Linked DNA regions of Homo sapiens: region 1 is linked to region 2. The links come from fine-mapping of genetic effects on gene expression. A gene starts in region 2. The other region holds a variant in brackets. All regions are shown on one strand. Distances are between the middles of the regions. Region 1 has its middle 19 kb from the start of LINC00837. Region 2 holds the start of BAMBI (BMP and activin membrane bound inhibitor).

What was found. PIP is the estimated chance that this variant, and not a neighbour inherited with it, causes the effect.
Region 1: its variant is the best candidate, but not a certain one, in a credible set for the expression of BAMBI in whole blood (INTERVAL, PIP 0.72).

What each region holds. Positions count from the first base shown.
Region 1 is chr10:28,812,692-28,817,079 of GRCh38, reverse strand. No RefSeq gene overlaps it. Among named protein-coding and RNA genes, the nearest start is that of LINC00837, 19 kb to the right of the region's middle. The variant C/T (reference allele first, on the strand shown) is at 2,645.
Region 2 is chr10:28,675,091-28,679,478 of GRCh38, reverse strand. BAMBI (BMP and activin membrane bound inhibitor) reads right to left here and starts at 1,958. Exons shown (of 3, transcript NM_012342.3): 1 at 1,506-1,958. The coding sequence starts at 1,581. RefSeq lists silencers at 1,061-1,205, 1,931-2,490.

The DNA of each region.
Region 1 (4,388 bases), 140 kb before region 2:
CAGCCTCCTGAGTAGCTGGGATTGCATGCGCCACCACGCCTGGCTAATTTTTTGTATTTTTGTAGAAACGGGATTTCACCATGTTGGCCAGGCCGGTCTCAAACTCCTGATCTCAAGTGATGAGGCTGAGGTGAGTGGATCACTATAGGTCTACCTTAGTCTTTACAGGTCTACCTTAGTCTCTCTCTCTCGTTTTTTTTTTTTTTTTTTTTTTTTTTTTTTTGGTTCACTCAGGTTGGAGTGCAGTGGCGCAATCTCAGCTCACTGCAACCTCTGCCTCCAAGTTTAAGCGATTATCCTACCTCAGCCTCCCAAGTAGCTGGGATTACAGGCACACACCACCATGTCCAGCTAATTTTTTGTGTTTTTGTAGAGATGGGGTTTCACCATGTTGACCAGGCTGTTCTCAAACTCTTGACCTCAAGTAATCTGCCCACTTCGGCCTCCCAAAGTGCTGGGATTACAGGCGTGAGCCACCGTGCCCAGCCACTTACCTTATTCTCTCTTACTGCTGCATAATGCTATGTAGTATTGGAAATATCACAATTTGTTTCCCTAATGATGGACATTTAAATTGAAAATTTTTTGCAATTATGAACAATGCTGCATTGAAAATCTTTACCCATGCCTCTTTCAACCTGTATAACTTTGTACATGTGCAAAGAATTCTCTTGGACAGAAATACAGAAGTGATGATGCAAAGAAAATAGGTATTTTTACTTTTAATAAACACTGCCAAATCAATCTTCAAAAGGCTATTACCAATGCATACTCCCCCAAAATGGAATGCAACAGAATTTTTTTGAATTGCCCAGCTAATGGGTGAAAAATAATCGATCTTCCTTACTTTTGCGAGGTGACAGCGTGCTGGCAGTCCTCACAGCTCTCGGCGCCTCCTCTGCCTGGGCTCCCACTTTGGTGGCACTTGAGGAGCCCTTCAGCCCAGCGCTGCACTATGGGAGCCCCTTTCTGGGCTGGCCAAGGCCAGAGCCGGCTCCCTCAGCTTGCAAGAGAGGTGTGGAGGGAGAGGCGCGAGCAGGAACCGGGGCTGCGCGCCGCGCTTGCGAGCCAGCTGGAGTTCCGGGTGAGCGTGGGCTTGGCGGGCCCCGCACTCCGAGCAGCCGGCCGGTCCTAACGGCCCTGGGCAGTGAGGGACTTGGCACCCGGGCCAGCGGTTGCGGAGGGTGTACTGGGTCCCCCAGCAGTGCCGGCCCACCGGCGCTGCGGTGGATTTCTCGCCGGGCCTTAGCTGCCTTCCTGCGGGGCAGGCCTCGGGACTGCAGCCCGCCATCCCTGAGCCTTCCCCCGCCTCCGTGGGCTCTTGTGCAGCCCGAGCCTCCCCGACGAGCGCCACTCCCTGCTCCACGGCGCCCAGTCCCATCGACCACCCAAGGGCTGAGGAGTGCGAGCGCATGGTGCTGGACTGGCAGGCAGCTCCACCTGCAGCCCCTGTGCGGGATCCACTGGGTGAAGCCAGCTGGGCTCCTGAGTCTGATGGGGCTGTGGAGAACCTTTATGTCTAGCTGAGGGTTTGTAAACGCACCAATCAGCACCCTGTTAAAACAGGCCACTCGGCTCTACCAATCAGCAGGATGTGGGTGGGGCCAGATAAGAGAATAAAAGCAGGCAGCCCGACCCAGCAGTGGCAACCCGCTTGGGCCCTCTTCCACACTGTGGAGGTTTTGTTCTTTTCTCTTTGCAGTTAAATCTTGCTACTGCTCACTCTTTGGGTCCACGCTACTTTTATGAGCTGTAACACTCACCAGGAAGATCTGCAGCTTCACTCCTGAAGCCAGCGAGACCATGAGCCCACCAGGAGGAACGAACAACTGCAGATATGCCGCCTTAAAAGCTGTAACACTCACCGGGAAGGTCTGCAGCTTCACTCCTGAGCCAGCGAGACCACGAACCCACCAGAAGGAAGAAACTCCGAACACATCCGAACGTCAGAAGGAACAAACTCCAGACGCGCCACCTTAAGACTTGTAACACTCACCGTGAGGGTCCAAGGCTTCATTCTTGAAGTCAGTGAGACCAAGAAACAACCAATTCCGGACACACTTTGATCTGTGTTCACTGTTTTACTAACGAGATTAAGAATGTTTTCACATGTAGATTGATTTAAGTGAATCACTTGACTGTTTCCATTTTTATCCATCTTTCTGCCTTTTTTCCTTTTTTTACTTGTATGAGCTCCTGACCTATTATGAATAATAATCTCTATTAACCATGTAGCTTGCAAATATTTTATCCAGAACTGTTGATCATATTTTATTTATATCACTGCATTAAACCTCAATTTTTTTTTCTTGCGATGGAGTCTCACTATGTCACCCAGGCTGGGGTGCGGTGGCGTGATCTCGGCTCACTGCAACCTCTGCCTCACGGGTTCAAGTGAGTCTCATGTTTCGGCCTCCCGAGTAGCTGGGATTACAGGCGTGCGCCACCACACCAGCTAATTTTTGTATTTTTGATAGAGACAGGGTTTCACCATGTTGGTCAGGCTGGTCTCGAACTCCTGACCTTGTGATCCACTTGCCTTGACCTCCCAAAGTGCTGAGATTACAGGCGTAAGCCACCCTGCCCAGCTCAAATTTTTATTGTTGGCAAAAAATTCAAATTTTAAAAGTGGTGCCAATCTTTT[C/T]TATTGGCCAGGTGAGTTGGCTTATAATCCCAGCTCTTTGGAAGGATAAGGCAGGAGGATCACTTGAGGCCAGAAGTTTGACACCAGCCTGAGTAACATAGTAAGACCCCGTCTCTACCAAAAAGATAAAAAATAAAAGTTTTAATTAGCCAGATGTGGTGGTGTATGCCTATAGTTCCAGCTACTTGGGAGGATGAAGCAGGAGGACTGGCTGAGCCCAGGAGTTGGAGGCTGCAGTGAGCTATGATCATACCACTGTACTCCCACCTGGGTGACAAAGTGAGACCCTGTCTCTAGAAAAAAAAGAAATTTAAATCTATTTTATTAATCTGTGTATTTTCCATTCTATATAAACTAGCAGATCAGCTTGTCAAATTTCATAAAATATCCCTGTTATGGTCTGAATGTGGCCCCCCAAAGTTCATGTGTTGGAAATTTAAAGCCCAGTGCAACAATGTTGAGAGATGAGACCTTTAAGAGGTGATTAGGTCAGGAGGGCACTACATAAATGAATTAATGAAGTTATTGCAGGAGTGGGTTAGTTATCTCAAGAGTGGATTCCTGATAAAAGAATACATTTGGATCACCTTCCCTGTCTTACTCTAGCCCTCTCTCTTGTCCTATCAACTCCTGCCATGGGATGATGCAGCACCAAGGCTCTCACCAAATGCTGGCACCATGCTCTTGGACTTCCCAGCCTCCAGAACTATGAGCCAAACAAATTTCTGCTTATTATAAATTACCCAGTCTGTGGTGTTGTTATAGCAACATAAAATGGACTAAAACAATCCCTTTGTAATTTTTCATGAGGTTGCATTGAATTAATAGATGATTTAGAAAAAAATTGACACTTTCACAATTTTTATTCTTACCATCCAAAAACATGATATGTGTGCTCATTCCACTTTTCTTTTGTCTTCCAATAAAATTTTATGTGTTTCTTTACATTAGGTTTATGTCTAGAATTTTTCTCCCCACAGGTTTGAAATGAACTTTAATTAGCTTTTGTCTCCAGAATTCCCCATCGATGCCTGGGCTTTAGGGTTCTCCTCACCCCCTCCAATTTGAAGGTCCAGACTGGAAAGAAGAGACACAAGAGGGGACAGAAGATTACCTAGCACAAAGTTGCAGGGGGGTTGTCTCCCTGGCAAGAGATCCCAGGGCCCAATGCCTCTCCAGCCCAGCCACAAGTACTCAGAGTGTCAGAACATATTTTTGTAATGAGAAGCGTGGGCCCTGCCTCTCCCCACTCATGGAGCAGGTGGGTGTCCTGCAGCCTTGGGGGTCACTTCAGTGGGGCAGTGGGCGTGGGCCCAGCAGAGGCACTGACAGCGAGAAGTGGCCAAAAAGAGGGTTGCACACCACCATCTCCCTGTTCGGGGCCACGCCTGGACACCTGTACACCATAAAGTCACTGCTTTCATTCTCATCTGCAGAGTCCAGCTCCTCAGGAGGCTCTTTCTGCAGCTCCAGCTGTAGTATCTGTTAACCTCTGGTGCTGGTAGTGATACATTTGCACGCTGGGCACCAGCTGCTGCTTGCAGGCTGTGTGGAGGCAGAGGAAGAGTCAATTATTTTACCACCTAACTAAAATCCTTCCTTCCTTCCTTGCTTGCTTCCTTCCTCCCTCCCTTCCTCCTTCCCTCCTTTCTCCCTTTCGTTCTCTTTCTTTCTTTCTTTCTTTCAATTCTTTTACCACCATAACTAAATTACTTTTTCTTTCTTTTTCTCTTTCTTTTCTTTT
Region 2 (4,388 bases):
ACTATATTTCTGTCGTTCATAAAGTTTCTTCCTGTGGCATGCAAAAGGCCAGAAAGGGGACTGGTATTTTGAAACTGTGGAACAATGCCCTTCTGTTTCTGTCCCCTTCTCGTTACTGTATGTAGTGATTAAACAAAAATGTCTGCTTTAGTCAAGATGGCTACAGGAGAGACTGCTGGCTTCTTTTAAAGCTTTTGAAGTCCGCAGCCGTCAGAAATCTCTGATCCCCTAATTATATCATTATCAGGCACATAGTTTCGGTATCTGTGACTTCATGTCAGCCTCAGTCCCTCCCTGTTCTGCCCGCCTTTGATAGGGCCAGGAGGCTCCCCTCTGCAAGCCACAAGGGCTGTTATTTAGGGTTAATTACACCCTTCCTTCCAAAATAAATAAATACTGTAGCACATCATCCTCGCTGGGCTAGCTTATGCTTTAACCTCATGCCTGCTACATAGCAATTAAAGAGAAGTAGGGGGCTGCAAAGACTAAACTGCTTCCTACTTAAAAAAATTATCTGTTCACAGAACAGTAGGTAGATTTCACAGCAGGGAGGTGAGGAGAACCTTGAAATTCGGAGACAGTTCGGGTTATTTCTTTCTAAAAGGTGAAAGCCTGCAGAGGAAAGAAGAAACTGACCCGCTGCCTTTTTTTTTTTTTTGGTCCTGTTTGTAAAATATGAGGTGAGTGGCAGTGAGACGCTGACAGAGCCTACTCCTCCCGGCTGCTGAAAAGCAACACAACACACACTTCTGCACACCTCGGACACCTAAACTCTCAGGGAGACCCACACACTCGCTCGCACACAGAGAGATGTACGCAGAGACACACTCACACAGAGACTCAGATGCACATTCAGAGATACAAAGACACTTAGAGACAGACACAGAAATGCATTCAGAAAGACACACTCAAGATCAGAGATACAGAGACTCACACATTCAGAGACACAAAGACTCAGAAAGAGACACAGAAATGCATTCAGAGATACATTCAAAGAGACACAGAGATACGCTGAGTGATACAGAGGTTCAGACACACTTTCAGAAACACAACGACACTCAGAGACACAAAAATGCATTTAGGGATACTGAGACTCAGAGACACACTCACAGAAATACACCCTGAGGCACTCACACAGACACGCTGAGGGCACGCGGCAGCTACAGGCCAGGATCTGCGATTCCTCCCGGCCGCCCGAGCCCCCAGGGTGCGGAAGCGGCGGCGTCGAGGCCGAGACTCCGGCCCCGCTCCCCGCTGGGCTGCAAACGCGCCGCTCCCCGCAGGCAGAGCCAGGAGGACCCTCTGATCAGCGCCTGCCCTTAGATCGGAGTCCGCATCCACGCGCCAGGCCACCGCCGCGACTTCTAAGAACACAGCAACTTGTCGCGACCTGCGGCTCCGGCGCAGGAGGGAGCCTCGCCTGCCGCTAACAAAGCCTCTGCAGCCGGCTCCAAAGCCCCGCGGCGAGGACGGGACCCCGGGCCCCGTGCGCCCCCGGCACCCACCTTTGGTGAGCAGCACGGCCATGGCGCAGAGCTCCAGCTGCAGCCAGATGAAGATGTAGCTGGAGTGGCGATCCATTGACGCCCCGCACGGCCGCGGCGCCCCCGCCGGCTTCCGGAGCCCCGGCTCGGCGGCAGCCTACGACCCCCGGAGCGCGCAGGGCATGGGCCCTGCCCGGAGCGGCGGGCGCCGTCAGCGGCGGGGCTGGGTTTCGGGCCGCTGCCGGAGCATGGAGCGCGGCTACAGGGCGCGCCCAGGAGCCCAGAAAAGTTTCCCGGTCCCCCGTCGGCGGCCACTGGCTCCCTTGCCCCGCTCGACTCTAGGGACGCACGCTAGCCCCGGGTCGGGAGTGGGCTCCCGGCCTTCAGTCCCCGCTAGCGGCCGTTCTCAGCGAAGAGAGTAGGGTCTCCACAGCACGCAAGGGTATCCGCCGCAGCTCCCGCCCGCGCCAGCCCAGGTCTCTCCGGCTCCGCGCCGTAAATAGCGCCCCGCGCCGGGAGCCGGCCTGCACCGCCCCGCCTCGCCCCGCCCCACGGCGTCCGATTGGCCGCCGGGCTCCTGTCAATCCGCCCCGCAGCGGGGGGCGGGCCCAGACGCGAGCGCTGGGGGACCTGCCCGGCGGCTCCGAGCGGCGCCGGCGTCTGGGGCGCCCGGCTGGGGCGCCCGGCTGGTGCGCTGCCGTCTCCCGCGCTCCCCCTTGCGGAGGCCTGCGCGTCAGTGACCTTCGCGAGGCGCCGGGGGAGCCCAGCCCCGGGACCGGCTCGGGAACCCGCCTCCGAGACCCTGACGGCTCAGCCTCGGGTGGTCAGCGTTCCCCAGCGCGGGGCTTCTTTTGGGTGCCCCCCGAAACACGCAGGGGGTCCGTGTGGTCGTCCTCCCCGGCCGCACTGCGTTTTCTGGAACCCCCAGGGGCGAGTGACAATGCCCCGGCCTGTGCAGGTGGCGGAGGAGGGTTCGGGTGGGAGCCCGGGGGAGGCGGCCCAGCGCTGGGGTCTGCATTCAGCCTTCGCCCCCCACCCCCTCAGCGTGTCCGCCTCGAGCTGCCCGCCATGGGATCAATAAAGCCCAGACAGACTGACTGTTGATCCGTTAGGAGCCGCTAGGTTCTCCCGGGTACGCGGGACGAGTAGCGGGCTAGAGACACTTAACGAAAATTAGCAAATCCAAAAGCACCCGGCGCCAACGAGACGACACTGGCCGAGACTGACACTCAATTAACCACCCCCCAAACAATGGCTGGCAAACACGCCGGCTGACCCTGATCAATATCAGCCCCGCAGTGATCTCCTCCTTGAGATGCTAATTCATTTATTAGGGATCGCGGGGCTGCCCTTCCCAAGGTACTCAAGGTGGTCTTGCTGTAGTTTTGTTTCCCCCTCCGCTTTGGAAGGAATTAAGGTTAAAACTCATTATCTGAGGGAATGTTCTTTTATCCTCTCCCTCCAAAACCTGAGATGAACAAAAGTCGACCATTTGCAAAATTCTTCTTGAGAATCTGCCAGAGCTTCCCTACCGGATATGTCAAAAGGGGGTGGGGGGTGGGGAAGGAAAGAAAGAGAAGCACATTTCATGCTAAGGTGAGAATTATAAAGACAAATCCTTTAGGACTAGAGTGCAGACATGAGCTTTGAGACTAAGAAAAATGTACATATGTCTTGAGGACTGAAAGTCAAGGCGAACATATCTCAAACGCCTAACCTTTTAAAGTTGTTGAAAGTCTGCAGAGCTGCAGGATGTAGTTAATGAAATTGTCTTTGAAAAATAATGTTTATGTGCAGAAAAATAAAATAATTTCATAAACTGATGCTCAGACCATTACTTCTCTAGATCAAAATTGCATCTAAAAGGAGAGAAGGAGAAATCCAGTAGAAGTTTTAAAAGAAAATTAAACTGGTTAGGGCACCAGGTAAACAGCAGGTTTCTCAGAAAAGTTTCTCAAGGGGCGTGCTGACAAGGCAGTCCTGGGGCCGAGTTTGATTAGAACTTCCTGGCTACTAGAACCTTGACAAGTTAACAATTGTAAGGGTTTTATGCAGACAAGACTTTTTTTTTTTTTTTTTTTTTTTTTGAGACGAGTCTGGCACTGTCGCCCAGGCTGGAGTACAGTGGCGCGATCTCGGCTCACTGCAACCTTCCGCCTCCCGGGTTCAAGCCATTCTCCTGCCTCAGCCTCCTGAGTAGCTGGGATTACAGGCACCTGTCTCCACGCCTGGCTAATTTCTGTATTTTTATAGAGACGAGGTTTCGCCATGTTGGTCAGGCTGCTCTCGAACTTCCGACCTCGTGATCCGCCCGCCTCGGCCTCCCAAAGTGCTGGGATTTACAGGCGTGAGCCACCGCGCCCAGAGGACAATACTTTTTATGTAATGATTACACTCTCTTTTAGAGTCAATTATTAGCTAAAAGGAAACTTTCAGGGTATGTTAGTTCAACCTGGCCTCCCACCGTAGGCGAGGCTTGCAATGTCTGGGGGTATAAAGATGTCAGAAACTAGATAGTAAATCTCAAAACAATGGAGCTGGACAATAATGGAGATTTATGTGCATGATGTTACAATGCCTAAAAGAAAGAGGTTAACTAGTCTAGGAAGGTAAAGAGAGCCGGTAAAGTCTAGAAGCAATGACATTAAGGATTGGAAGAAGACCATTACAAGCACAGAGGACCACAGGACTTAGGCATGAAATATGATTGTGTAGGTGAGTAGGAGTGGTAAGCAGCGAACAGGTAGTTGGGATGACAAGCAAGTCTTTGTGATTGCAGCATAAAATGTGAAGAAGTGAACAGAGACGTATCAGAAATGAACTATACTTCCCTTTGATACAGATAAATATTTAATGGAAGAGGTCTGGGGAATGTGTTGGTGAAAGTTGCATTCTAGTAGACAC